Regions from separate parts of the Homo sapiens genome. Here regions 1, 2, 4, 5 and 6 are each reported to be linked to region 3. Evidence: microRNA targets listed by miRTarBase, many of them from high-throughput screens and not tested one by one. Region 3 holds a microRNA gene; each other region holds the end of a gene's coding sequence.

Region 1 (5,067 bases), not on the chromosome of region 3:
AGGAAGGGTATTCCAAAAAAGGAAGAGGAAAGAGAGAATCAGAAATTTCATCTCACTCTCCTGCCCTGACCTAATGACTCTGGGTCAAAGGGAGGGCAGATGGTTGTTGGTGTGGAAAAGGGGCAACCCCCTCAAAAAAGGGATGTGCTAGACAAGATAGGAGATATACACTTGAGCTACTAAGGGTAGCTGCCAGGCACACATAAAAACCTTCTTTCCCCAACACACTTCCAGAAATGTCTTCTTTTAACATGAGCCAAAGTTGCCCACATACAAATTTAATTATGCACCCCCTCCCCATAGGAAACCACCCAGAGAACTATCCAGCTATTGTAACCATAGGTGAGGTCAGGATACCATTGTTCCCAGAGTGCAGGATCTTTAGGATGCACCTGTGTTAGGTATTCTGCCAGCTTGGGACCAGATGGAAAATTTAATCACCAGCCCAATCATCTCTAAGACACAATGACTGGGGGTTAGGGGAGGAACAAGAGAAGAGAACTTTGTTTTCAAATTGTAATTCCCATCTTAAAAGGAAAAATGATGGTGTTAGAGGAGTGCTGGACTTATTTGCTTCTTAGCAGAAAAGAAAATGCAAGTGAAAGCATTTTCCTTGTCTCTGCAACTAACCTTGAGGCAACACCATTTGAGGTTCCTCTCTCCCATTATCCATGCCACGTTTCCCTGGCTTTTGACCAGAATCTTGGTTGCTGCCTAATTTAGCAAATCTGATTTCCTGGCCCTTCTCTTTCTCTATAAACTAAGGCAAGTGGTTTAGTTTTGTAATTTTTTTGTGAAAGAAATCTTCAACCCATGGGGGATCAATTAAGACAACAATTTTTATTTACCAGTTGGATTGCAATTACATTGGTGTTTCCTTGAATGTACTGAAGAAATGAACCCAAAAAAATTCTGTGTATGGGTAGCAAGAGTGAAATGACAGCTTACTATTCTCTATTAGCAAATGACCCTCAACTTCTGAAACGGAAAAGGGAGACTCAAAATTCTGTTAAAGAAAGCTGCTCAAGTGCAGATAGAAAAAACTGACCTATGCTAGGAGCACCTCAGAACCATGCAGTTTCTGAAATAATCCATTGTCTCTTCCAAAGGGAGGGTGATAAGTCTTGAAATAAGGAAAACAGATCATTTTTCCTTCAATAAACGATTCATTTAAGCAATACTTATCTCAACAGAACATATAAAAAATGCTAGGGGGCCAAACCAGAAAAAGAGAATGTATCTTTAAACTGATTTTAAAAGAGCAAAACATGATTTCAAGAAAAAGCATATTCAGGACATAAGAACATCTTTGCCTTCTCTGGCCACTCTAAGCAATCTCATTCTGACCAGCTAACCTCGAAGGCACGTGTGGAGGCAATCGTGAGGCACATTACTTTCCAAAAGGAGAAAATACTTCTGATTCAGCATCTGGTAAATTCTAGGAAGAAGAAAACTCAGTGAGTTGGAGAAAAAAAGCTTTACTGTGAAACATATAATAAGATACAGGACAATTTTCGACTAAAGTTGGAATCTCATTTTCAAGTGGCATCTAATTTATTCACATGTAAGTGAAGAATAAAGTCTATTTGGATTCTAAGTGGAGTCACTTTTCTATGGAGAAATGAACTTCACATAAAATAATTTCCATTTGGATCCACAAAACATAAGATTAAACTCTGAGGACAGAGCACAATCCTATGAATTCTGCCTCATGACAAATGAATGCTTTTCCATGCCAGAACCATTTGTTCAATACATGTGTCCAGTCTTCCCAACAGCATGGCAGGGAGTGTATAAGCTGGAAAAGTCCAACCAAGACGGAAGGATCTCCAGGTTTGACAAAATGATACATGACTTCCTCCGTAGTGGTGGCTAGATTTACATACTAAGTGGCTTTAAGAGACATGCCCCTCCAACCCTATCCTCCACCATCACACACACATACACACACACACACACACACACACACACACACACACGCATACCCTTAGGAAGTTCACATTGTTATTTTAATGTGAATGCTTTGCCCTTGGGTATACAACCAACAAAATTTTATTTCATGGGATCTCGCCATAATTTGCTGAGATTTCAATTTATGACCTACTGTGTCTCCAGATTCATTTAGATTGCCTTATTTAAAGAATTAAAATCTACAATGCCAAGCTGAACTAGGACATCTTCTCCTTTTTCAGTGACTAGGACATGGTGAGCATTAATATATAACCTTGTTCCGAGATGATGCTCAGGTACCAGGTTAGCAAGTGCTGGTGATTATATGTGATCAGTGATCTTTTAGTGAATATTTACGCTGTGCTAGACACCATGCCCAGTGCTTTACAGGTATCTTCTTTCTCTCAGCAACTATCTATACTAGATGAAAAAATTGAGGATTAGAGATGCTAAGTGATTGCTCAAAGACCCACAGCTACTAGTAAGTGATGGAGAGCAAAGCTCCTGCTCTTAACCATATTTGCTTCCCTTTGGGTCTACAAATAAGAGCAGTTTCTATATTTTCCATGACATATTAGCTTTTTAGTACTTTCAGATACGCATTTACTTTGTTTACATGCTCCTTGAGATCACTAACCTTTTTCTAGAGGTTAAATGTTATGTCTGGTTTGCTACCAATTTGTAAAGCCTTCCTTGTATATCCAAAGTTAAGTAATCTGAATGTCAAAAGTAATAGCTCAGATACCACCTTGTTACATCAAAATTGTGTTAACTCTGAAAAGGACATACACGGATGCCTTAAATTGAAAATATCGGGGTGTTGGTGCTGAGGACACCATCACTGTCACCAATACCAACCACTGCCATCATCAACAGCAGCTACCATTGACAGCATCATTTATGTGCCAGGAACCATGGAACCATGGCTGTATGTTTTACATGCAGAGTCTCTTAAGTGCCATAATAAGCCAGTAGAGCAGGGATTATTATCCTCATTTTACAGCTATGGAAAGTTAAGCTCAGGGAGGTTGTGAAAGAAGATCTGGATTTCAGATCTTCTCAAAGAACTTTAAGTTCATTCTTTTCCTAAGTAGGTGGACCTCTAGAAGCCATGTTAAAAATAAATTTTAAAAATGAAGATCAGTGTCTGATCTATAATTGGCACCTCTGCAGCAATTTGGGATTATTCTTTGACTTGGGAAGATTTACGTGAGATCCCACCCCCACACACAACAGCAAGCTATTGTGTTAGATATTCAACCTGCGCCAAGGCAAAATTCCTCTTACCTATTATTTTGTCATTCTCTAATCTTTACTTCATGATGGCATCAATCAAAAATATCTGTCAAATGGGGACTTAACCTTTCTTTGCAATATAAAACCTTCCATAGAATCCCAGCATGTCAGGGTTGGTGATAGCTCACAGGTCATTTTGGCTAACCAGTTTTCCTTCTCCCATTAGAAGGCTTGGCTTTCTTCTCTATATTATTTATGGGGAGGGAGAATGGGACAGTCTGTAACAAAAGTATAGACATAATGAGATCAAATCATTTGTGGTAAACTGTTAGGAAATGCAGAAAGTTGTCCACATTCATGTTTGACTATACAGAGAACAAAACACGTGCTGTGATCAGTCAACACCTGACTGAACACCAAATGTCAAAGTATGTAACGCAGCTGCATGCCACAGGAAGTCAACTGGAATAATAATTTTAACAATTTATTTTGATATAATTTTTTTTTTTGAGACGGGTTTCACTCTTGTTGCCCAGGCTGGAGTGCAATGGCCGATCTTGGCTTACCGCAACCTCCACCTCCCAGGTTCAAGCGATTCTCCTGCCTCAGCCTCCCTAGTAGCTGGGATTACAGGCATGCGCCACCACGCCCGGCTAGTTTTGTAGTTTTAGTAGAGACGAGGTTTCTCCATGTTGGTCAGGCTGGTCTTGAACTCCCGACCTCAGGTGATCCCCCCGCCTCAGCATCCCAAAGTGCTGGGATTACAGGCGTGAGCCACTGTGCCCAGCCTTGATATAATTTTATACTTACAGAAAAGCAGCACGAGTAGCTCAAAGAACTCCTGTTTACTTTTTACCTAGATTTACAAGTTATTAATATTTTGCTCCATTTGATTTATCATTCATTCTTTTTATCCTGAACCACTGGAGAACACTTTTTTGACATCTTGTCCGTTTATCCATAAATATTTCAGCATTTGTTTCCTATAAACAAGGCCTTTTAGAATAATGAAATTTCTGATCAAAATACAAAGTTAACATAGAAGCCACCAGAATAAATGTCAAAATGTTAACTACAAGGAAACAATACTTTGCTTTCACGGATAAAGATAAGAAAAATACTTTGCCTTCATTCCTCACAAGAGAGGAATTTTTTGGCCTGTTTTGCTTACTGGGATGTTCCTAGACCTTGCCATGGTGCCTGGCACACAGCAGGTGCTCAGCAGATACCTGTGAATTTCTTAATGTGATGGTGTGATAGTATATTGACCACATTTGTAAACAAAGTATTTCTAAAATAAAGCAAAGGCAACAACAGCAAATTATCTAGTCATCTTTATTAGCTATAATTTGGAATTTGCAAGTGACAGAAAAGGAGAAAGGCTTCAGACGCAAAGGACTTTTAATAAGTTACCTTTTGAAGATGAGACAAGACAGGTTCTAAGCTAATCAGACGTGTCCACCAGGTGGACCTGCGCTCTTTTCACAGGTAGCGGTTCCTGATGTACTCTCGGTACATGGAGGAGTCCTCTTTTCCTAGGGGCTGCATGATACCTTGGCTGGCCTGGATGTGGGCTTGGAAGATCTCTGTAGATTTTCTGTCTACTCTTGGGGGCTGAACTTCATAGATGTTATCTTGCGAGAAAGCCGAGATGGGTGTTCTATAAAAGATGAATAAAGAGAGGGCTGCATTAAAGAAAATATAAGGAAGGACCACAGGGAGCAGTCTCAGAAGCACTTGAGAGTCGCTGGCATTGAATAAGCAGGCTGACTTTTGACAAGCTGCTGGGATGACCTCCCCAGTCCTTGCGAGGCTGGTTCTCTTCTCTGCCTGGAGGAGAGAGCTGGACCAACACCTCTGGGAGCCTCACCTGATTGCATA
Region 2 (5,073 bases), not on the chromosome of region 3:
TGAAGTATTAGTCTTTCTGTGAAATAGATATAATCCAGTGTAAATATTTAGGGGAAATGGTTCTAAATTTACAGACAGAATCTTGTTTTTCTTTTCACTATACTTACAGGCACCAGCTTCTGAAAAAGAAATTGTGGAAGTAAAAGAAGAAAATATTGAAGATGCCACAGAAAAGGGAGGAGAAAAGAAAGAAGCAGTGGCAGCAGAAGTAAAAAATGAAGAAGAAGATCAGAAAGAAGATGAAGAAGATCAAAACGAAGAGAAAGGGGAAGCTGGAAAAGAAGACAAAGATGAAAAAGGGGAAGAAGATGGAAAAGAGGATAAAAATGGAAATGAGAAAGGAGAAGATGCAAAAGAGAAAGAAGATGGAAAAAAAGGTGAAGACGGAAAAGGAAATGGAGAAGATGGAAAAGAGAAAGGAGAAGATGAAAAAGAGGAAGAAGACAGAAAAGAAACAGGAGATGGAAAAGAGAATGAAGATGGAAAAGAGAAGGGAGATAAAAAAGAGGGGAAAGATGTAAAAGTCAAAGAAGATGAAAAAGAGAGAGAAGATGGAAAAGAAGATGAAGGTGGAAATGAGGAAGAAGCTGGAAAAGAGAAAGAAGATTTAAAAGAAGAGGAAGAAGGAAAAGAGGAAGATGAGATCAAAGAAGATGATGGAAAAAAAGAGGAGCCACAGAGTATTGTTTAAAACTGCCCTATGTAGTTTCATAATTTGGTAACATGTACCTTCATGTTGTAAAGTTAATAGAGATAAATATTTTTATCAAAAATTTTATAAACACAGCCTTTCTTTAGCATTGATTTAATTTCAGAACATCTTCATATTGATTATTAGCCATAAAGTTTCTAACATGAAACATTTATCTATAAATTTTGTGATTATAGTAGTGGAATACATAGAAAAAAATATGCTTTCAACTTTGTGAGTGAATTTCGTGTTGTGTAAGTTATATGTCAAATCTTTGAATTTTAATTTTACTCTTTTATACATGTGATAATTTCATAAAGTGAGGGATCCCAAAAAAAGAGTTTCATCCAACATTCTTGTTCTGCAGGTTGCTTTTATAAAGAAGGTGAACTATTTTCATGTAATGTTAAGAGTTAAACTTATCTTTCCCAAATATAACTTTATTATTAGCTTGGGAAAAATGAAATTGTATTCCCATTTTTAAAATAAATACAAATGTTTATTTCAGAAGGGCAGTTTTGATTATATGTGAATACACAAATTTTACTGGATTTATCTTAATAAAAAGACTCTGACGATGATTGTGTTTTGTTATATCTTCAAAAATATAGCTAGTGAAATATTGTGCTTAATTTTTTTCTATTGTGTTATTCATGAAAATATTTAATATTCACTGACATAAAATTAATATAAAGTAAAATTCACCATTTTAATTATAATAAAAATAAAGTATATAATTCAATGGTTGTCAGTATATTCACAATGTTGTGTCCACTGTTTAATTCCAGAGAATTTTTATCACCCAAATAAGAAACAAAGCACCAATTAGCAGTCTCTTCCCATTTTCGCCCAACTTATCCCCCACCTCCATCCCTTGGCAACCACTAATCTGCCTTCTATCTCTATGGATTTGCCTATTCTGAACATTTATTATAAATGGAATCACATAATATGTGTGTGGCCTTTGGTATCTGGCTTCTTTAACTTAGCAAAACGTTTTCAGGTCAATCTCCATTGTAATTTGTATCATTACAGCAGGTCTCAATTTTGTTCAATGCTGTTTGGTTATAATTTTGATGAGAAAATAGATTCCCAGCTGGGGCCACTGTTTGTGGAGTTTGCAAGTTCTCACCATGTCTTCATGAGTTTTCTCCAGGTAGTTCAGTTTCCTCGTACATCCCAAAGAAGTGCATTTTAGGTTAACTGGCATGCCTAAATGATCCCAGTATGAGTGTGTGTGTGTGTGTGTGTGTGTGTGTGTGTGTGTGTTCCCTGTGATGGACTGGAGTCCTGTCTAGGATGGGTTCCCGCCTTGCCTTCTGAGCTGCTAAAATAGGCTGCAGCGATCCACTACTGTAAACTGGAATAAGCATGTAAATAATTATCTTGTTCTTATTGTTCTTAATTCTATGCATAGCTTATATTTATTTCAGTGTTTAATATTAGAAGTATTTTAGTCTTTAGAAGTTTGGTGATGCTGTAACCAGAAATATTTGGTAGGAACTTAACTCTTATCTATTTCAATTAGCCTGTTGGTAAAATTGGTTTCCTTATGTGTCGCTTAACTTAAAATTACAGTTTCTAAAAATCTGTCAACGATGTTAAGTGAGGACTTACTGTACTTTATTTCTTCTAATGCCTGAATAATATTCTGTTAATATACCACATTATGTTTGTTGATGGGCATTTGGGTTTTCTCCATGTTTTTTCAATTATAAACAATAATGCTGTGAACATTATTGTGCAAGTTTTTTTTGTGGATGTATTTTCTCATTTCTTCTGAGTATATATCTAGGAGTGAAGCTATTGGATCTTATAATAGTTCTATGCATAAATTTTTGAGGAACTTTTGGACTTTTCCAAAGTGGCTTCAGCATTTTATATTTCTACTAGAAATTTATGAGTGTTCTAATTTCTCCACGTCCTTGCTAACACTTATTGCATGTTTTTTATTACAGCCATTCTAGTAGGGTGATTTGGAGGTGATGCAAATCATATGATCTTGATTTGTATTTCTCTAATGATGTTGAGCATCTTCTGATGTGCTGGTTGGTCATTTGTATATCTTCTTTGGAGAAATGTCTATGCAAATCATTTTCCATTATTTAATTGGGTTGTCTCTTTAGCATTGAGTTCTAAGATATGTATATCTTTTACATACAAGTCCCTTGTCAGATATATGATTTGCAATATTTTTCTCCCATTCTGTGGTTTTCGTTTTCTTGATAGTGTCCTTTGATACACAAATTTTTAATTTTTATGATCAATTCATTTTTTTCTTTTATAGCTTATATTTTTGGTGGTATATCTAAGAATTTTGTCAAACCCTGGGTTACTAAGATGTACACATATGTTTTCTTCTAAGAGTTGTATACTTTTTTCTCATACATTTAGGTCTTTGGTACATTTTGTGTTAATTTTTGTATATGAAGTGAAGTAGGGATCAATTTTCACTCATTTACATTTGGCTATCCATTTGCCCAAGTATCATTTATTGAAAAACACTATTCTTTCCCCATTCAATGGCCTTGGCACCTGTGTCAAAATCAATAAACCACAGATGTATGGGTTTATTTCTGGACCCTGAATTTTGCAACATTGACCCATGTCAATCTTTGTCAGTACAAAAATTTTGATTACTGTAGTATTACAGTAAGTTTGACATCAGAAGTGTCAGTTCTCCAACTTTGCTCATTACTTCAGGTCTCTTGCAATTCCACATAAATTTTAGGATTAGCTTGTCCATTTCTGCAAAAACAAGGCAGGGAGCAGTTGGTGTTTTGACTGGGGTTGCAATTAATATGCAGATCCACTTGGGGAATATTGCCATTTTAACAATACTAAATCTTCCAATCCATGAACACAGTATGTCTTTCCGTTTATTTAGGTTCTCTTTCATTTCTTTCAGCAATAATTTGTATTTTTTGGTGTACAAGACTCCCACCACTTCCTTGGTTAAATTTATTCCTATTAATCTTTGCTGGTGTAAGTGAAATTCTTAATTTCCATTTTGAATCATTCATTGGGAGGGTATAGAAATGCAACTGATTTTTGTATACTAATCTTGTATTCTGCAATTTGGCTGAACTTGTTTATTAGCTGTAATAGGCATTTTGTGGAATTTTCAAGGTTTTCTATTTTACAATTATGACATCTGTGGAGATAGTTTTACTTCTTCCTGTCCAATTTTGATGACTTTATTTTTCTTGCCTAATTGTCCTGGCTTTAAAAAGACTTCACAATATTAAGAATAAAAAAGGAAATACGCAAAATGCAAGAGGTCTAACTTTCGAAACACAGACCTCTGACTCTACTTTTTCCTGGGCTGGCAAGTCCTTTACCATTTTACACCCTCTCTCAAACTTTGTACAATGCTACAGTTATCAAAACCAACCCCAAAGATCAGGTTGAACTTCTAGGCACCTTGCTTGGATCCCCTGCTTCCTAGCCACATTGTGCAACCACAGAGAATGGATTCATATAACATTCAACAGAGAAACTAGTCTCTTAAACACCTTGATGCCATTCGTTATCAATGCGAAATGAAAATAACGATCTTGGCTTCCTCTTTAGAAACATATTCCAGGTTTCTAGCAGAACTGTGGTAATGGATTATCTTGAGTTTTCATGTGAAAGCTTGCTTTCTACAGAAGGAGGGTAGTCAGCTTCCCTGTGCAATGTTATTTTAACTACATGATAAAGCCCTTATATAGCAAGAATACTGTAATATACTAAAACAGGGTCATTTCTTCATACTATATTATTACAAAAGTAACCTTTCTTCCTCAGGTCTTATTTTGTCTCTTGATGTTTAATTGGATTCTACTTTCCCTTTACCATCCAAACATTGCCTCACACAGTTTCTCTCCTAAAAGCCTCAGCAACTGCAAGATGTGGAGGGAAGAGTGGGGTAGGAGTGGTGGTAATTTATAAAAACAGTACACCATCACTGTAAGTGAAAGTGAATGTACATTACAAATCTACTGTAGTAGAACACTCTTTACCAAGGTTGGAGAGAAATAGCCAATGGTACCAAAAAATCTATAAGGAGCACCACACGGAAAAGTTGTTGAAAAAGGACTTTTGGTGCCTCTTTAGTAATATGAGACATATTTTTTTAATTGTCTCATTTGCAACATAAGTTTTCAGTAACATATAATGCTGACTTAGACAATAATTGATTTTCTGAGTATATACTGCTGAAGTTTTAATCTAAAATTTTCTGGTGACACTATAAAGTGTTTACCCCTAAGCTTTATTTTGTCTGGTAGGGAGGCATTCCTCAGAGTCAACAGTTTTCTAATGGGAATAACCTCAGAAGTCATATTGTAATTAGATGCGAAAGTATGATTCTGTTTATCGTTTATTGTTCCTTAAAAAAA
Region 3 (5,076 bases):
TTAGTGGGTTCTGCGGGTGCTTAAGCATCCATGGATTTTGTTATCCTCGGCAAAGGCGGGGGTCCTGAAACCAATCCCCTTGGATACTGAAGGAAAGACCACCCTTAGTGATAGGAACCTAGGAACCCAAGTTCCCTCATTTCCAAATCGTGTTCCCTGACCCACTTATTTACTAACTAGTGGTGAAGCCATCTTCCTGCCAGTATATTTTAACTTCACAATGGGATGTGAGGGCCAGGATGCACATGCTTTTTAAATCTCCCTCTGTGCTTGACATACAGTAGATTGAAAGTAAGTGCTGGTAGATACACTGGCCAAGCTGTGCTCTTCTCTGAAGTCAGTATTCCAGGAGTAACTCACCCTGGTCATCTCTGTGCCCTGGGCACACTGGGCACTCCCCACACACAGGTTGAACCTGGCAAATAAGACTCACAGCATCATGCCACGTGCGAGTTAAAGCCACCTGGAGGTCAGGTCAGGTCTTCCTGACAACTGAGTGCTTCAAATAACACAACAGCAGCTAAGTTCCCCACATCACCTTGAGTGTCTGGAGAGCTAGGCCTATGACTTCTCTGTCTCAGGATCCCTCTCAGTGCCCAGAAAACAGTGGACATCAATAAATGTAACACCAATAACATCTTCGTTGAGCGCTATGCTAAGCACATCAGGTATGTTAACTCATTTATTCCCCAGTGTCCATCTCTCAGTGTTTTATACATACGGGAACTGAGGCTCAATTAGCCGAGCGTGGTGTCGTGCTCCTGTAATCCCAGCTATTGGGAGGCACAAGAATCACTCGAACCCAGGAGATGGAGGTTGCAGTGAGCCGAGATTGTGCCACAGCACTGCAACAGAGTAAGACTCCGTCTTAAAAAAACAAAAAAACAGAAAACAAAACAAACAAACACTGAGGCTCAGGGAGGTTAAGTCACCTGCCCAAGTTCATGAGACCAAGGAGCCGGGAAGCAGGAAGGGGAAGGCAGGAGTGTAACTCTGAAACCTCTGCTCTTAGGCACTGGCTTTCAGCTGAACTGATACCTCTGGAAAACAGTCTCAAAAAAGTCCACTTCTCCTCCCAACAATTCAGACCTAAAAACCATTTGGCGGGGAAGGGCAGGGCAAGCTTCTGAGTTGGGGAGGGGGTGTGGGATCCCAAGCTGAGGTGTCTGTTGGCAAGCAGGGTGCAAAGGGCATCTGTGCAGGGAGGGGGCTGCAAGGGAGACAGAGACTGCTCACAGGCAAGGAATGAAATATTAAACATTAATGTTAATATTAATATTTATAATTAATATATTTATGATATATAGCATATATACATATTATATTAATTAATTATAACTATATTAATATAATTAATTATAACTATATTAATATAATCAATTATAACTATATTAATATAATCGATTATAACTATATTAATATAATCGATTATAACTATATTAATATAATCGATTATAACTATATTAATATAATCGATTATATTAATATTAATATAATCAATATTAACAAATATATACTATATAATATAAATAATACCTAAGTTTATATAATATGCATAATGTTAATATTTATTAATATTTCAGGGACAATGGGAGTCATGAATATGGAGAGACAAAACTAGAATGAACCCCAAGGTGCTGCATCAGAATTGAAGGTACCAGTCTGAACTCATAGTTTTCAACCTATTGAAATAAATATAGATGCACGTGTGTGTGTATGCACGTACATACAAATGTTCCCTAATTCTGCCCATTGAGAGGCCTGTGGTTAGCAACACCCCAACAGCAATAAGCAGACCTAGCTTGGCTCCTAAATTTCATTTTCCACTAAAAGGAACCAGAGCCCCTTGGATAAAGGACTGATTCCACAGGTGGGTAGGGAGCATCTGTTGCCAGAAAGCAAGAAAGCACTTAAAGAATGATGTGGACATGTCAAAGGGACACAGAAGCCAGCCTGGATGAGATCCCACTGGCCCTAACTGTCCACAAGGACAATTTGAGCAAGGATGTCAACAATTTAAGAGCAGATTATAAACCACTGAATAAAACAGAAAAATACAAAGAATTGAAACGGACATTGATGGCAGACAGGATATTAACATAATTTTAAAGTATCTCTCCAAGGAATGCTTCTGAATGATGAAGGGGAAAAGAATAACTGTACAGTGGAAAAGCCTGGTAAAACCCACCTTAGTGACCAAAGTGAATGTCACCATAGTGGGACAAAAGGAAATCAAGTGCCACCTTATGGGATTCAACGAGGACGCAGCATCCCTTGGGTGATGTTCCAGCCAAATACACGTGCCCGGTGGAATCACACAAGAACATCAGACACACTCACACTGAGGGACACTCTGCAAACTGACAGTACTGGGCACAAACATGTCCAGGTCATGGTCGACCGCAGTGGCTCATGCCTGTAATCCCAGCATTTTGGGAGGCTGAGGTGGGCGGATCACTTGAGGTCAGGGGTTCGAGACCAGCCTGGCCAACATGGCAACACCCTATTCTCTACTAAAAATACAAAAATTAGCCGAGCGTGGTGGAGCATGCCCGTAATCCCAGCTACTTGGGGCGCTAAGGCACAAGAATCGCTTGAACCCGGGAGGTGGAGGTTGCAGCGAGCTGAGATATCACCGCTGCACTCCAGCTTGGGCGACAGAGTGAGTTTCCAACTCAAAAAATAAAAAAATAAAATAAAATCCAGGCCACAAGAGTCAAAGAAAGACTGAGGAAGGTTCCAGACTGCAGGAGAGCCAAGAGACAGGATAACTAGATGCAATGGGCAGTCCTGAATTGGATCTTTTGTTATGAAGGACAACGCTGGGACATATGGTGACTCTTGAATGGGGTTAGAGGACTAGACGGTGGGAATGCATCAGAGTCAGTGTCCCGCGTGGATGGCTGTGTTGCGGTTCTGTGGGAGAATGCCCTGGTCTGTATTCCAAGGGTAATGGAGTAGCAGGTTGACAAATTACTTTCAAATGGTTCAAAAAAGAAAGTTCTTTTCACTGTACTTGCAATTCTTATGTAAGCTGGAAATTATCTCAAAATTAACGAGAATTTTTTATCGACGTAGTATTTTACATATTTATGGAAAACATGTAAGTATTTGTTACATGCATAAACTGTGTAATGACCAAGTCAGAGTATCTGGGGTATCCATGACCTTGAGTATTAATCATTTGTATGTGTTGGGAGCATTACAAGTTTTCGAGTTACCAATTTTTTTTTTTTTCCTTTGAGACAGGGTCTTACTCTGTCGCCCAGGCTGGAGTGCAGTGGGACGACCACGGCTCACGCAGCACAGCCTCCACCTCCCAGGCTCAAGCGATCCTTCCACCTCAACCACCCAAGTAGCTGGGACTACAGGTGTGTGCTGCCACCCCCAGCTAATTTTTTAATTTTTTTGTAGAGACAGGGTCTCACTATGCTGCCAGGGCTGGTACTGAACTCCTAGGCTCAAGAGATCCTCCCACCTCGGTCTCCCAAAGTGCTGGGATCATAGGCATGAGCCACCATACCCAGCCAAATTTTTTAAAGTTATTTTTTAAATCTCCACTTAATTCGATTTTGGTAAAACACGACCTGTAATTTTTCTTTATCGGTAGGTAATAAAAGCTTCAGATGATTTTACTGATCACTGGTATGGGCATATTTCATGACTTTGCCCTTTCATCTCTTGCATAGTTTTACCCTCACCAAGCAAGACCTTCCCTGCCTCAGCACTGTTTGCCCTCTTCGTGTTTTCCAGAACAGAAGTGGCCCTGTTTCGTGCCCAGAGCAGAAGAGAACGATGAAGAGCTCTGCTCTCCCAGGTCTTCCTGGTCTGTGTGTGTCCAGGTTTTGAGGGCCTCTCACATACACGGCTCTGGACCACGTAAGATCTAATTTTAGCATTTTCCTGCTCGGAGACCACATGTTTGGAACAGCAGGGGCTGACCTGCCCGTGCAGGCCTCCTATTGTGAAGGGCACGCGAAGCCAGGATACCGCAGCCCTGCAGGATGTGACTCAGCATCCTGTCTCAGTGCTGGGGCGGCCAGCAGCTCTGGCACCAAGTGCTGCTGCTGACCTCACCTCTTAAGACCACAAATACCCAGGGTAATTGGTGGGATAGGCATGCAGCATCAGCTCTCCCTGTTAAGACAACTTGCTTGTCCATCCATTATGCTGGGCTTCCTTGTGAACACCACAGGTATCTATCAGGAAGAGTTCTTCCGAGGAACTGATCTGCTGGTATTTTCAGGACACCAAGAATCAAGAGATTGGTCTTGTTTCTCTCTTTGCTTTGACTACCAGGAAACTCAAAGTCAGATCTGTGGCCAAATTCTGGTAACCATACCAATGCTATGTCATGTATTACATGTACAAACCTTCCCCTTACTTCATCTTATTTTCTTCTGCTTTCTTCGTGTCCCGATTTTCTCACTAATGTTACATTCTATTGTTCTCTATGAATGTTGTAAGGTGTTTCAAATCCTTTTTGGAGGGCACTACTGTAGATACAACACACATTACCCCTGAGGGATAAGGACTCTTTTTGACTCCACACAGAATCCCTGGCATTTGGCAAAGAACCCATATTTAGGCACTAAATACACATGGGCTGAATGGAAAAAGCCAATAGCTAAGTAAAAACCACCTCCATTACCATATTGTTTCACAAGAGGTTCTTTTCCCTTCCATCTCATGAGGTGGGGCCTGGTCAGGAGTCCCCAGGGCCTGGGAATTAGGTTCCTTAGGGAGCCTTCTTGCTGTAGGGGCAGCCAACAGGTCAGTGGCCTTGACTCCAGACCTAAAGAGCCACTCCTAGACTCCCAGCTGCAACAGACACAGCGTGGCACGGGTGGGCCTGGCCACTGGGGAAGTGACAAGTGATTTCCAGATGCTGCAGCCAGCCTGGCTCTTTCCAGACCACACTGAAGGCCCCTTCCTGTGGGAATTCTGATGGGGCCCAGATTTGGGGAAACACGCCTCGAGGACTCTTGGCAAGTGCGTGCCAGGCCTGGACCAGGAATGACTTCTGTGGGCACAGGGAGAGACCAGGCATTTCCTAACACAGGACCTTGAACAGCC
Region 4 (5,076 bases), not on the chromosome of region 3:
TTAAATACATGAATTTAACAAAATGTGAGAGCTGCAAACTGAGAGAAATTAACAGATCTAAATAAATGGGGCAGTACACCATGTTCAACAATTGGAAAACTCAGAATTGTTAAAATGTCATTTCTCCCTAAATTGATCTATAAATCCCAGAAGACTTTCTTTTTGCAGACATTGATAAAAGTTGTTTTTTGAGACAGTTTCACTCTTGGTTGCCCAGGCTAGAGTGCAATGCCACGATCTCAGCTCACTGAAACCTCCACCTCCCAGGTTCAAGCAATTCTCCTGCCTCAGCCTCCCGAGTAGCTGGGATTCTACAGGCGCCTGCCACCACGCCTGGCTAATTTTTTTGTATTTTTAGTAGAGATGGGGTTTCACCATCTTGGCCAGGCTGGTTTTGAACTCCTGACCTCAAGTGATCCGCCTGCCTCGGCCTCCCAAAGTGCTGGGATTATACAGGCATGAGCCACGGGCCTGGCCTGAAGTTGATAGAAGTTGACTTCAAATTTTATACGAAAATGCAAAGGATCTAGAAGTCAAAAAAAAAAAAATGGGAAAAGAACAAAACGGAAGCCCTTCCAATACCTGAGTTCAACTACAGTTGGCCAGGAGTGGTGGCTCACACCTGTAATCCCTTTGGGAGGCTGAGGCAGGAGGATCCCTTGAGGCCAGGAGTTCAAGACCAGCCTGGTCAACATAGTGAGACCCCCATCTCTACAAAAAAATATAAAAAATTAGCAAGATGTGGTGATGCATGCCTACAGTCCCAACTACTTGGGAGGCTAAGGAAAGAGGCTCACTTGAGCCCGGATGTTCGAGGTTACATTAGCTGTGATTGTGCCACTACGCTCCAGCCTGGGCAACAGAATGAGATTTCTGCCTCAAATAAAACTACAGTAATCAATATAGTGTCATATTGGTGTAAAGTTATACACACAAGAAGAATGGTGTCCAGAACAGACCACTTCTATGTCACTTCAGTTTTTACAAACCTGTGAAGACTTGGTCATTGGGAAAGTAGAGTCTCAACAAATAGAACCGAACCAACCAACCACACAGATAAAAAAGTGAATCTTGACCCTTATCACATATGGTACACAAAAATGAACTCAAAATGGATCACAGACTTAAATGTAAAAGGTAAAACTATAAAAGTTCCATAAAAATAAAAAACATAGGAAAAAATCATGTCCTTTGAGTAGGCAAATTTCTTAAACTCAAATTATTATAAAATATCATAAATCATTATTATTATTATCTTGGTTTACTGCAACCTCTGCCTCCTGGGTTCAAGTGATTCTCCTGCCTCAGCCTCCCGAGTAGCAGGGACTACAGGGGTGTGCCACCCGCCCAGATAATTTTTGTATTTTTAGTAGAGACGGGGTTTCACCACGTTGGCCAGGCTGGTCTCAAACTTCTGGCCTCAGGTGATCTGCCTACCTTGGCCTCCCAAAGTGCTGGGATTACAGACATGAGCCACCACACCCAAATCTTTGATAAATTAGGCTTAATAAAAAATATTCAAAAGACACCATTAAGAAAATGAACAGGCAAACCAAACATGAAAATATTCACAATATTTGTCACAAATGGAGACAAAGAATTCTATATATTACATGTATGTTTTTCATGCAGAATATGGAAAGAACTTGAGTCAACAATAAGCATCCCAACTTAAAAACAGGCAAAAGGCACGAACAGACACATCACAAAAGACGACACGGAAAAGCAATAAGCAGATGAAATCATAGACATACATTATTCAGTGGGCAAATACAAATTAAAATCATAAGGAGGCTAGAGTGGATTAAATTTTAAGAGACTGACAATGCCAAGTGTTAGCAAAGATATGGAGCAACTGGAATCTTCCCATAATGTAGTAATAGTGTAAAATGATTCAACCACTACAGAGGGCTGTGTGACAATTTCTTAGGAAGTTAGAAACACGTATTGCAATGGACTGAATGTTTACATCCTTGCACAATTCATGTCAAATTCCTAACCCATAAGATGATATGAGGTGGGGTCTTGGGGAGGGGACAGAATCACAAGGGGAGAGCCCTCATGAATGGGGTAAGCTTGCTAGTCCCTTTCCACCACGTGCAGTCACAGTAAAAAGACATCTACTTAAAAGGAAGCAGGCCCTCACTAGACACCAAATGTTGACACCCTCATCTTGGACTTCCCAGCCTCCAGAACTGTAAAACATAAATTTCTGTTGTTTATAAGCCTCCCAGTTGATGGTATTTTGTTATGGCAGCCTGAATGAACTAAGACACTTACAACACAGCAATTAAAGTCCTAGGTACTTACCCAAGAGAAATAAAAACACATGTGCAAATACATACTTTTACACAAATGCTCATAGTTTTAAGAGCCGAGACTGGAAACCCATTAACACATGGATGAATAAACAAATGATGGCTTATCCACACAATGGAATACTATTCAGCAAGGAGAACTACTGAAACACAAAACAGCTTGGATGAGTCTAAAAACATGCCAAAGTGAGACATCAGACGCAAAAGAACACATAGTAAATGAATCCATTTGTATGAGGCTCTAAACCAAGCAACACTAATCTATGAGGATAGAAAGTGGTTATCTGGGGCTGGAGTGGGCTTAACTAGGAAAAGGCAAAAGGGAACTTCTTTGGGTGACAGAAACGTTTTTGGTTCTGGCGGTGGTGGTTACACAGGTGGTGGTGGTTACACAGGTGTATAGATTTTTCAAAACCTTGTACACTTAAATAGGCGTTTTACTATATGAAAATTGAATCTCAATAAAGTTGATTAAAATGGTCTGGTAAAATCTACATTTGAAACATCTCTAGTAATGCTGATTTTCCAGAAAATGTAGATCTCTTTTTTGAATTATTTGTCCTGAGACGTTCAGGGTTGGTAGTATTTAAGAACTCAAAATATGGCCTCATGAGAAAAAAATTATATCGTTACAAAACTGGACTTTGGGGTTCATGTCCAGATGAAATTCAGAGGTAAAGACTAACAGTTTGGCGAGGCGGCTGTCCACTGTCCATTTACCTCGCCTGCTTTCGAACAGTCCTAGCCAAAAAGCCATCTGTCATGGCTCCATGTTTCTGCAGATTCCTCTCCTGGACCCTATTTTCTTCTTCAGCTGCTCTCTACTGATCTCTGGCCCAGCTGAAATGTCACCTCTTCTGTAAGGCCTTCCCAGCTCTGTGCCACAGCAGGCACCCCCTCACCTGTGCTCCTTCACACCTGAGGGCACATACTTAACTCACCCTACTGTGATCTCCGTCTTCCCCACTACACGGTGGATGACTTCAGGGTAGTGGGTTGCTCATCTGTTTTCCCAACATTGAGGACTATTCCTTATAGATATCAATACATTTTGAAATGACACAATGAGCCAGAGAGCATGGAAAATGACAAGAGCTCAGTTCAACCTCAGAACTGCTACAACAGAAGAGTTACGTAGCGCATTGAGACTGTGCCTTTCGAGTGAGACAGAAAGATACAGACAAGTAAGTAAAGACCTTCTCTTGAGACCTGCCTCCTCCTGTCCCCACTGTTCCAGCTGAGCCAGGTGTCAATGCCCTCCAGATCAAGTAGACAGTTCTGCATGAGCTGTAAGGTGGCACACAGGAGGGCGTGGATGTGCACAGGATATTGCCTGCAACTTCTAAGTAGGAGCAGCAGACAGTAGCAGGGCTGAGAAGATACTTCTAACAGAATCGTAGATTATACTGATACAAAATGAACAAACAACAAAAAAAACAGCCAACAGCTGAAAATTTTTAGAATGGCAGTATAGAAAGGACAAAGCAAGAGAGATGCCAATTACACATAGATTTAGGGGTGTATTTTTTATTGCCCTGTGCTAGACAGTGGACACATGGAAATCAATCAGATATGATCACTGTCCTCAGGAACCCAACAGCATAGTGACAGAGATAGTCTATCACATCATTCTGACATATGCAAGTAAATATAGTAATAGCAGTAATCACTGAGCCACAGAAGTGTGGAGAGTGCTGCCAACTAAGCTTGAGGGAAACACCCATTGACATGATGCCTGAGGCTTGTCTTGAACCATGATTCAGAGTTAATTAGCTGAGAAGAGACCCTTCAACAAGAACAAAGGCGAGAGAGGTAGGAAGCCACGTGGAGCACAGGGAAGATGAAGCAGTCGGTGTTGCTGCAGCATTAACCGTGTGGCAGGAAGTCAGGCAGTGGGAGGCAGGGCTCCAGGACGCAGGAGGCCTTAGGGCACACGATGGGAGGCCTGGAGTTCCTCCTCAGGACAACAGGGAAATGGCTCGGGGTTCATACACGAGTTACCTTTCTTCAACTTAACACATCAAAATGTCCTAGGTAACATTCTCCTAAATCGTAAGATTAGATACACAGTTGTGCTGTAATAAGGGATTTAAGTCAAGGATGGACTCTGCTTAACTGGGGATGAAACTTCTTAAAAACCTTTTCTTGAGACCTGTCTTCTCCCTGCCCCTACTGTTCCAGCTCAGAGTCAGGTGTCAAGCCCTGTGACTCTCCTGAGGACAGTGCTCACAGCTGAGGAGAAGGGCTGAGCCGAGTAGGGCTGCACAGTGGCAGGTGGCACCCACTGCAAAAGCAGCCCCATCCATGACTCACAAAATTCTGACATGTCCAAATCTTAGAAACCACATGAATCCTAATTCCACGCATTTCCAAACATCACTCACTGGGCGGGAAAGTAATTATTTTATAAGTTACCTGTGTGTTCCCCCTTATCTACAGACCTCTCACCCAAATGTATGGGGGCCTTACTCAAGGAGAGTCCCTCTTGGTGAACCCTTTGATTATTTTTAACGTTTGTAGTTGAGTTAAAATCTCTCCCATACTGACTACATTCATAGAGCTTCTCTTCAGTATGAATTTTCTGGTGTTGAAGGAAGTTTGACCTCTGAATAAAGCCTTTCCCACAATAACTGCACACATAGGGCTTTTCTCCAGTGTGAATAATCTGGTGCAGAAGCAGCTTGGAGCTCTGGATGAAGGCTTTCCCACAGTCTTTACATTCGAAGGGCCTGTCCCCAGAGTGGATCTTCTGGTGCTC
Region 5 (5,076 bases), not on the chromosome of region 3:
CAGAGGATTCACACCGGGGAAAAGCCCTATAAATGTGAAGACTGTGGGAAATCCTTCTGCCAGAGCTCTTACCTGATCTTGCACAAGAGGACACACACCGGAGAGAAGCCCTACGAATGCAGTGAATGTGGAAAGGCCTTCAGTGACCGTTCCTCTCTCAACCAGCACGAGCGAACTCACACGGGCGAGAACCCCTATGAATGTAAGCAGTGTGGGAGAGCCTTCAGCCAGAGGTCTTCCCTTGTGAGGCACGAGAGAACTCACACTGGAGAGAAACCCTACAGGTGTCAGGAATGTGGGAAAGCCTTCAGCCAGAGCTCATCCCTTGTCACACATCAGAAAACTCACAGCAGCCAGAAAACCTATAAAATCATTGACTGTGGGAAAGCGTTCTACCAGAACAGACATCTTATTGGATATTAGCAATTGCACGCTGCTTTGTAAGCCACTTTTTAGTACTCTGACACATACATGTGGTTATCTTTTGCCCTGTTGTGATGGATAATTTGAAAAGAAGTGGGTTTATGTCACCTTCTCACCTTCTTATAAGAAAGCTCTGAGAATGGGCATTTTTGTATTTTGTTGTTGTTGTTGAGATGGAGTCTGCCACCCAGGCTGGAGTCCAGTGGCGTGATCATACCTCACTGCAGCTTCAACTTCCTGGGCTCAAGTAATCCTCCCACCCCAGCCTCCCAGGTAGCTAGTACTATAGGTGTGCACCACCACGCCCAGCAAATTTTTAAATTTATTATAGAGTGGGAGGCAGGGTGCGGTGGCTCATGCCTATAATCCTAACACTTTAGGAGGCCGAGGCGGGTGGATCATGAGGTCAGGAGATCGAGACCATCCTGGCTAACACAGTGAAACCCTGTCTCTACTAAAAATACAAAAAAGTAGCCGGGCGTGGTGGTGGGCGCCTGTAGTCCCAACTACTCAGGAGGCTGAGGCAGGAGAATGGTGTGAACCCGGGAGGTGGAGCTTGCAGTGAGCCGAGATCGCACCACTGCACTCCAGCCTGGGAGACAGAGCGAGACTCCGTCTCAAAAAAAAAAAAAAAATTATAGAGTTGGGGTCTTGCTACATTGCCAAGACTGGTCTTGAACTCCTGGGGTCAAGCATCCTCCTGTCTTGGCCTCCCAAAGTGTTGGGATTAGAAGCATGAGCCGCTGTGCCCAGCCTGACGGGGCCTTTTAGTGGGAGGAGTTGCCATTACACTACGTCCAGTAAGCTCCAGACTTTCGGAAAAGATTGGTGGACGGGAATGCTGTCATGGATGGGATCTTGCCAAGAACCATCACGTGTTAATTTAGTTGCTTAAACAAAAGGTGTTCTGTTTCTTAACTACTTCTGTGTCTTTACTTTTTATTTCATTGTTCATTGTTTTTATTTTAATATTCTTTTCTGGGTTTATATGAGACGAGTTTTCACTCTGTTGCTGAGGCTGAAGTGCAGTGGCGTGATCATAGCTCCCTGTAGTCAGCCTTCATCTCCTGGACTCAAGCAATCCTCCCACCTCAGCCTCTCCGGTAGCTGGGACTACACATGTGCACCGCTACCACACCCAGCTAAATTTTTTTTTTGTATTTTTGTAGTGATGGGCTTTCACCAGGTTGCCCAGGCTGGTCTCAAACTCCTGAGCTCAAGCAATCCACCCACCTTGGCCTCCCAAAGTGCTGGTATTACAGGTGTGAGCCACCGTGCTGGTATTACGGGTGTGAGCCACTGTGCTGGGATTACGGGCGTGAGCTGCCCATGCTGGGATTACGGGTGTGAGCCACCGTGCTGGTATTACGGGTGTGAGCCACCGTGCTGGGATTACGGGCGTGAGCCACTGTGCTGGGATTACGGGCGCGAGCCACTGTGCTGGGATTACAGGTGTGAGCCACCCTGCTGGGATTATGGGTGCGAGCCGCCGTGCTGGGATTACAGGTGTGAACCACTGCTCCTGGCCTTTATTTCAGCATTCTGTTTCAGTGTTTCACATTGGCCACTTAGCTAGATCCGTTTGTCTTCTGCAGTACTGTGCTGATCCAGAGTATATGCTAAGACGGAAAGCGCTTTGGAGGTAAAGTTTAAAAAATACAAGGGCTTCAAAATAGTACTAGTAATTTGATCCATTCACAAAAGGACAAAGGCTGGACAGAGACGTGAAGAAATGAATCATTTACGCAATGATTGGGGTGTTCCAATTATGTGTGATTTTGTGTTTTCTGCCGTTTCATTTTGTATTGCCATAATCATTTTGACAATGAATACAAATCAAATAGCACCCAAAATTGTGAAGGATACGGAACCTCATTGATGAGTCAGGATAGACTGTGGGTACCTAGATGGTAGAGACATAGTATAGTAGACTTTGGGACATAGAGGGTGGAATGACCTTTGGTGGCCTGGGAAAAGTCCCGCCTGTGAGATGTCCCTAGCAAAATCAAGACCAGGAGTGCTGATGTGCATTATCGTCATGAACATGTATTGGATGCTTACTGTATACCAAGCACCAGCCAAGTACTTCCATGTGGTTCTTCATTTAGCCCTCACGACCCCATGAGATAATCACTATTCACATTCCATTTTACAGAAGACAAAACGGAAATAATTTGCTCAAGGTCACACAATTAGAAAGGAGTAGAATCTGGGCTGGGCACAGTGGCTCACACCTGTGATCCCAGCACTTTGAGAGGCTGAGGTGGGTGGATCACTTGAGGTCAGGAGTTCGAGACCAGCCTGGCCAACATGGTGAAGCCCCATGTCTACCAAAAAATACAAAAATTAGGGAGGCCGAGATGGGCGGATCACCTGAGGTCAGGAGTTCGAGACCAGCCTGACCAACATGGAGAAACCGCATCTCTACTAAACATACAAAATTAGCCGGCATGGTGGTGCATGCCCGTAATCCCAGCTACTCGGAGGCTGAGGCAGGAGAATCGCTTGAACCCGGGAGGTGGAGGTTGCTGTGAGCTGGGACAGTACCATTACACTCCAGCTCTGGGCAACAAGAGTGAAACTCTGTCTCAAAAAAAAAAAAAAAAAAAAATCTGGGCGTCGTGGTGCACGCCTCTAGGCCCAGCTATTCAGGAGGCTGTGGCATGAGAATAGCTGATGTTTCAGTGAGCCGAGATGGTGCCATTGCACTCTAGCCTGGGTGACAGTGAGACTCTGTCTCAAAAAAAAAAAAAAAAAGTAGTGGACTCTGGATTTGACCTTGAGCACCCTGTACAAAGCCACACCTCATTTGCCAGGCCACCAAGCAGGGGAACTGTTTTCCAAATGTTCTCTTGGAAAGCTGGGTGTAGTGGCTCACAACTGCAATCCCAGTATTTTGGGAGCCTGAGGTGGGAGGATCACTTGAGCCCAGGTGTTCAAAACCAGCCTGGGCAACATTGACCCTGTCTCTGCAAAAAATACAAACATTAGCCAGGCATGGTGGCTCACGCCTGTAGTCCCAGCTACTCTGGGGGCTGAGGTGGAAGGACCGCTTGAGCCCAGGAGGCTGAGGCTGCAGTGAGCTATGAGCATACCACCGCACTGCAGCCTGAGTGACAAAGCAAGACCCTGTCTCAAAAAAATTTTACAAATTTTCTCTTAGGACTCATCTAACTTTCCTGTGAATGTTCCCTTTTTCCTTGAGCTAATGAGGGAGGTTGCCCGTCAGATCTCCTTTCACCCAAATGGAACATGTTGCTTTTCCTTAGAGATCCTTGATCCATGGTCAGTCTAGACCCTATTGGGTTGATGAGTAAGTTTCTTTAGGGGCTCTGTGAACAACTTTGAGAACAACTTTGTGTGCTGGTGCATTGATGTGTTTTTTGGGGAAAGCATCTGTAACTTCCAGCATATTCTTGAGAAGGGTTGACTTAGAAGTCTCCTGACTGTACTGTTTTCAGTCTTGTTATCTCCCTCCAGCAATTATATTTTATTTTTTGAGATGGAGTCTCACTGTGTTGCCCAGGCAGGAGTGCAATGGTGAGATTTCGGCTCACTGCAACCTCTGCCTCTGGGTTCAAGCGATTCTCCTGCCTCAGCTCCCAAGCAGCTGGGACTACAGGCATGCGCCACCACGCCCGGCTAATTTTTTTTGTATTTTTATTAGAGATGGGGCTTTCACCATGTTGGCCAGGCTGGTCTCAAACTCCTCACCTCAGGTTGTCCACCCACCTCAGCCTCCCAAAGTGCTGGGATTAGAGGCGTGAGCCACCGAGCCCGGGCACACTATTTTTAACTGGAAGCTGCTTTCCTATGTCAGTCCTCTAAACATTAATTTTTATAAAAGTGTGTAAAACCTTCCTAGGAAAGATAAAAATAAATTTTAAAAATTGTTTCTAAATGAAATGTCAATATCAGAATTTGAACAACCACTTAAGCTATGGAGTTTTCTGAAATGAATAACCATTAACTGTGTTTGGTTTTCAGCCCCTGTCTATTAAGTGTATTCAGTGTTTTCAGGCCTATCACAATCGTTTTTCCTTTTTTTAAAAAAAATTGAAGGCTGGGTGTGGTGGCTCACACCTGTAATCCAAGCACTTTGCAAGTCCGAGGCAGGTGGATCACCTGAGGTCAAGAGTTTGAGACCAGCCTGGCCAACATGGTGAAACCTCATCTCTACTAAAAAAATAAAAATTAGTAGGCCAGGCGTGGTGGCTCACACCTGTAATCCCAGCACTTTGGGAGGCCGAGGCGGGTGGATCACATAAGGTTGGGAGTTCGAGACCAGCCCGACCACCACGGAGAAACCCCGTCTCTACTAAAAATACAAAATTAGCCAGGCATGATGGCAGGTGCCTGTAGTCCCAGCTACTCGGGAAGCTGAACCAGGAGAATCGCTTGAACCTGGGAGGCAGAGGTTGCAGTGAGCCGAGATCTCGCCATTGCACTCCAGCCTGGGCAACAAGAGCGAAACTGCGTCTCAAAAAAACAAAAAACAAAAAAATTAGCTGGGTGTGGCGGGGCAGGTCTGTAGTCTCACCTACTCGGAAGGCTGAGGTACGATAATCACTTGAACCCGGGAGGTGGAGTTTACAGTGAGTCGGGATCCTGCCATTGCACTCCAGCCTGGGTGACAGAGCAAGACTGAAAAAA
Region 6 (5,076 bases), not on the chromosome of region 3:
TATTTTGTATATATTCCATTTGGAAAACAATGAAAAGCAGACTAACCAATTTTGAAACAACATAAGTTTTCAAATAAAGGGATGGGAACTCTTAAAATCAAAATCTAGACTGGAATAAATACCAGATTATCAGTAAGAATCTGGTCTTTATAGGAAATATATCTCAAACTGAATTTTCTGCTTCCTTTTATTTAGCTAAAAAGTAATTATTGTAGCTTTAGTAAACTTCAAGTCTTTAAATTTCATGGGCAGTATTTTTTACTGTTAAAAAAAGTGCTTTTGTGCAAAGCTTCAAATCTTCAACTCTTTCAGGGATAACTGAAATTTTTGCTTAAAAAAGAAAGACACTAAAACAATGTCAAATCTCATTCTAAAAATACTACCTACATTTTAGTTTGGCATCTGAAAAATGATGCCCACATATGCCCACACCAAATACAACGACAAGCTGGCCAACTTCAAGGGCAAACAAAACCAGTCTGAACACTGCAAAACATGCTTGCTCTTATATTTGCACCTTACTAATACAGCAATGAAGTTTGGATAGGATACTGGAAGTGAACAGGGATTTCATTAGGCTTTTTTTTTCCTGTAACATTTACTTTTTGGCCACAAGACCCTAGACACAATTTCACAGTACAGATCATGCATAGCTTGCAAGTCAAACGTTTTACAGGTACTGTCTAACTACTATTTTTGGACAATAGGTTAACATGCAGCTAATGATCCCAGAAAAGGGGCTTAATAAAGCATTCTTTAAGCTTCACTGATCATTCCTTGGCCTAAAATCTATAAGCAACAGTTCCAAAGGGCAACAATGAATTTTTACTGTCATACTTGAGATCACATACTTTTTAAGCCCAGAAAGGAATGTTTTGCCTTTTGCCAACTGCATGTCACTAGCCCACAAACTCTCACCTTAGCCTCACTGTTACTCCATTAATACCTTGATGCTGGATCCCCAAGCGCTATCACCCAGAACTGCATCGTTCAATATGGCAGCCACTAGACACATAGGGCTATTTAAATTTAAGCTAATTAAAATTAAATAAAATTTGAAATCCAGTTCTTCCCTTGTAGTAACCCCATTTTAACTGCCTAAAAGTCAATGTGCCTGGTGGCTACCGTACCAGACGGCACAGGTTTTCGAGCATTTCCATCATCACAGAAAGCCCTATTGAACAGTGCCAATCTAGAAGATCTCACAGGTTATACCATCACATGGTTTAACCTTCAAGGGACCCAATCTGTAAGCCATGCAAAAAATTAAACTTAATTCTATTTTTAAAGAAAACATCTTAGAGCTTTCTGATCATTAAGTATGACTGGAACCAAAAACCAAGTTGCCTTTTCATCACAACTTATGCCCCAAGTCATTATACAAAATTTTTCCAAAGACAATGCTTCTTAGTAGCATTCTTGGCTCTACTTAACATATTAAGCATTCTCTTCCTTATTTCAAGATCATTAATAAAGATGAAAATTCATGCTTCTTATAGTTTACTATTTATACAACACTCACTGTCCTTTACATACAAGTGGGGTGGGAGGTTTGGACACCAATGTTTTACAATTTTAAAAATTCAAACCACATGGTTTGATAGTTGTCTTTCAACATCTATACTCATCCCTAAGTCAACCCTCCTTTCATTTTCCCAGAGAGGTAGATGCTAACTAAAATGAGTACATAAACCTACAAAAAAAATTCTTTAAAGCAATAGTTGACTCAGTAAAGGGTATTCATCAACCCTAGAAAGGATCATAGCCAGATAGAGATATAGACAGACCTAGGATGGAGCAAGAAGACACTGCAGTGCGAAGTTCATATCCCCCCCTTTCTGCAGAATTACAAAACGGACTCATCTACAAAATGAAGCCACCGGAGGCTGCTTTCAGCTCTTTCTGTGCTTTCCAGTTGTGACTTTTCATTAATGTGCAAGTATGAATCCTGGCCTCTTGTGTCAGTGGACTTTGGTCACATGGGTAGATGTGTTTGTTAAGGGTCATTGGTAAATGCCAGAAGAGGCCAGAGCAATGGGATGCCAAGCAACATTAAAACATCATTAAGCCTATAAAATTCTATCTGGGAGACTGAGATTCTCTCTCTCTCTCTCTCTCTCACACACACACACACACACACACACACACACACACACATACACAAGAATGCACACCCCAACAAACAGGTACACAAATAACTGCAAGCAGATCCATTTAAACAATTTAAACAATGTTTCTTAGGTCAGTAAGACTCACAAAAAAAATCTGATTTTGGTTGTTGTTGTTAAATTTAAGGTCAAGAATCTACCATACAGCCGATTAATTTTGCACTGCTTAATGGCAACTCTAGCATGGGATTGTTTTTAAGTAAAAGTTCTATGGACATTTTTACTCTACAGATTTGCACTAAGAAACACAGGACACTATCATCACACACATTAGTGTCTATATCTAACCTACTTTAACAAGTAGAACTCTATCACGTACTATACTACAGGGTCAGTCATTTCACACTGTACAGAAACATATGCAGATATCACTCACAAAATTAATCTGAATATGGCATAGCTTAAAATTGCAAGGGCAAAGTCTATTCGAAATGTAGCATTCTTAATGCAACACTTCTGTGGTGTGTGTGTGTGTGTATTTTCCTCCAAGAGAAATAGAAATTAGGTCAGACATGCATTATGGCAGCCTGGGAGAGTTTGAGAAATTGACACTAACCCAACAGTATATTATGTTATGTAATAGAGGATAGTATTCAGCTAATATGACACCTAAATTATTAATACCAAATAAATCCTAGATTATTTGTTGTATAATGCCCAAGAGCTTACACAATAAAATGGCATTTTAACCTAATTTCTATTTTGAGCTTTCAAATACATTTCCTAAAGGTTTTATGATCAATTTGAAAAATCAGAGCTCACAATTTTATGTTGAATTCTCATGCCAATTAGCAGTATTAGCTTTGTATTCTAGCCATTATATTTTTGTTTTATTTCACATTAATTCCATCACTTTTATATGCATATTTTGTGCTGCTTGAAGATAACAGACAGCATGTAAATAAATTAAATTGTCTTGACCTCACAGGGCTATTTTCTAGCCTTGCTTTTTGGAATTAGCCCTGCTTGTCTTTCCTTCACTTCCCCCCACCCTCCTCACCATTTTCAGGGATTCAGTGGAACATAAAAACAGTTATATTTATAAGTGGAGTCCTTGTCACATACCACTTGCTTCATGAATTCCATAAAAGAAGTTAGATGAGAGCTGTAAAGCTCACAGCTATTTCTGAATGCACATGCACCCAGGGATAGGAATTTATCACGTACTTGTAGCAGATCTTTCTTCATGAGCATCTATAGATCATTACACATTTAAGAACATTTGACAGTTTATGAGGAACTGGTCCACTTATATTGGGAATTTGAGCTGTTAGTTTACCTTGCCACCTTTCTTGGTAAAAACGTGTTAAAATACAGGAGATCTTCTCTCATATCAACAAGAGGAAACAGGAATTCTAACTGGCTTAACTCTTGTGGAAGAGCATCTTTCAAAAAAGAATCACAGGCCATTTATTAAAATGCCCGCCTGGGTTGACCATCAGTCACAACACTCATGGCCAGTGCAAGACTCCAAAACCAGGAGAAAAGACACTCTTCTGTTACTCTCCATTTGCCTCTTACAAAATGCAGGACTTAAATACACAGAAGAGGAGCGAGTGTTGCAGGTGACGTGTAGGAGACCACTCGCTGGGTCAAGATGTCCAAGAAGTGGCCACCGCTTCAGAGACTTGACTCATTCATGCCCAATGAAGTCTTCATCCCAGGATTCTTCAGCAAAGACTCAAACACCTGAGGTAAATCAAATTAGACACACACACATACACACACAAATACACAATATTTACATTTGAAATTCTTATTTTGTGAGATGGCTTGAGGAAAATCGGCATACAGGTTTTCCCATGGGATTAGACATTTCTCATGATTTCTCGGTTTATTGCTCCCCTGTTGAGCTTTCAGTTCCATAAACACGTAGCAAGCTCTAATTACAAGTGAAGAAAATGAAGGTTCATGACAAAACACAACACATTGGAGACACTTGTTCAAATATTTCCTCCAAATAAAATGACTGTCCATTTTGACTTATTTTGTTTTGGTGCCATTCAAAATGTATTAAAAGCCTTAGCAACTAAATGAAGACTGGGTTTCAATAAAAAGAAAAAAAAAATAAAGAAGCCAGCAGTGCATGTCTTCACTGAATTTTTACACGGATTCGCAGGTTTAATTCTACTTGTCTACAGAGCATCTTTGTTTGAATCTACCGCATTTAGAGAAGGTCACATTGTACGCACTTGTACAGTTTAACGTCTAAGTAGAATATGTCTATCTTGTAACATGATTTTGAAAAATCATAAATTACAGTCCATTGAATACATGATTATGAGGATGCATGCAATCATCTTCCAAGCTGTTGCCATCAACACTCAGAACAATTCACCTGGTATCTTGTTGAGACCGCACCTTCTGCCCTTTGTGTCTGTCTTGGGGTAATCAAGAGGCAACCCAGAGGCCAGCGCTCAGCACCAAATGGTCAGTGTTGCCCCCCATCTTCTCACTGGGATCTCATCATCAACCTGCTCAACCCCTAAGTTGGCACCCACAAGAGACTTCCCTGCAGCCCTCTTCAGCCACAGGATATCACAGTGAAGCGCTTAGAAATGCAAGACATGTTGTGAAGCACGATGCCGAGGAGGAAGACCAAGACGCAAGCCACCAAGATGACAGTGCACACCCCCGACCAGGTGGAGCTTTTCACCACGCCCCGCCTGTCCTGCTCCTCCTCCACCGCCTCCTGGGGAGCCCCACCTTGCAGAGGCTGCTGTTCAGCAGGGATGGTCACCACGGTGACGGACTTCTGCTGGCTCCCGGGCAGCAGGCGGCAGCCCATGTCTCCGGGCAGCAGCGCACGCTCCTTGGAGATGGGCAGGGGCAGCATGTAGCACCCATTGCTGGGAAGTTTGATGAAGACCGGGGTGTGTTCGGAAGTGTGTGGAATGGCGATGACAGC

What was found. Region 3 holds the annotated microRNA hsa-miR-619-5p (GCUGGGAUUACAGGCAUGAGCC, at 2,408-2,429, opposite strand). A microRNA usually pairs through its seed, bases 2 to 8, with sites in the 3' UTR of a target mRNA and lowers its output. Matches are read on the target gene's strand: a 7mer-m8 pairs with bases 2 to 8, a 7mer-A1 pairs with bases 2 to 7 and ends in A, and an 8mer does both.
Region 1: the mRNA of FIG4 is a reported target of hsa-miR-619-5p. The part of its 3' UTR that is shown has no 7-base or 8-base seed match.
Region 2: miRTarBase lists HMGN5 as a target of hsa-miR-619-5p. The part of its 3' UTR that is shown has no 7-base or 8-base seed match.
Region 4: miRTarBase lists ZNF623 as a target of hsa-miR-619-5p. The part of its 3' UTR that is shown has no 7-base or 8-base seed match.
Region 5: the mRNA of ZNF554 is a reported target of hsa-miR-619-5p. The part of its 3' UTR that is shown has no 7-base or 8-base seed match.
Region 6: the mRNA of RNF152 is a reported target of hsa-miR-619-5p. Seed matches in the 3' UTR shown: 7mer-m8 at 4,624-4,630 and 7mer-A1 at 2,083-2,089.

The regions. Positions count from the first base shown.
Region 1 is chr6:109,824,867-109,829,933 of GRCh38, reverse strand. FIG4 (FIG4 phosphoinositide 5-phosphatase) reads right to left here. Exons shown (of 23, transcript NM_014845.6): 23 at 4,508-4,846. The coding sequence ends at 4,669. Among named protein-coding and RNA genes, the nearest start is that of FIG4, 140 kb to the right of the region's middle.
Region 2 is chrX:81,110,267-81,115,339 of GRCh38, reverse strand. HMGN5 (high mobility group nucleosome binding domain 5) reads left to right here. Exons shown (of 7, transcript NM_030763.3): 7 at 110-1,641. The coding sequence ends at 691. Among named protein-coding and RNA genes, the nearest start is that of HMGN5, 89 kb to the left of the region's middle.
Region 3 is chr12:108,834,555-108,839,630 of GRCh38, forward strand. It overlaps MIR619 (microRNA 619), which reads right to left and starts at 2,452; the gene lies at 2,354-2,452. All of the region lies in intron 2 of SSH1 (slingshot protein phosphatase 1), which reads right to left. RefSeq lists enhancers at 3,308-4,507, 3,812-3,941, 4,501-5,076.
Region 4 is chr8:143,651,130-143,656,205 of GRCh38, reverse strand. It overlaps ZNF623 (zinc finger protein 623), which reads right to left. Exons shown (of 2, transcript NM_001261843.2): 2 at 2,476-5,076. The coding sequence ends at 4,723. Among named protein-coding and RNA genes, the nearest start is that of ZNF623, 18 kb to the right of the region's middle.
Region 5 is chr19:2,834,430-2,839,505 of GRCh38, forward strand. It overlaps ZNF554 (zinc finger protein 554), which reads left to right. Exons shown (of 5, transcript NM_001102651.2): 5 at 1-2,306. The coding sequence ends at 423. Among named protein-coding and RNA genes, the nearest start is that of ZNF555, 4.5 kb to the right of the region's middle. RefSeq lists a silencer at 1-69.
Region 6 is chr18:61,811,160-61,816,235 of GRCh38, forward strand. It overlaps RNF152 (ring finger protein 152), which reads right to left. Exons shown (of 2, transcript NM_173557.3): 2 at 1-5,076. The coding sequence ends at 4,693. Among named protein-coding and RNA genes, the nearest start is that of LINC01544, 66 kb to the left of the region's middle. RefSeq lists an enhancer at 5,068-5,076.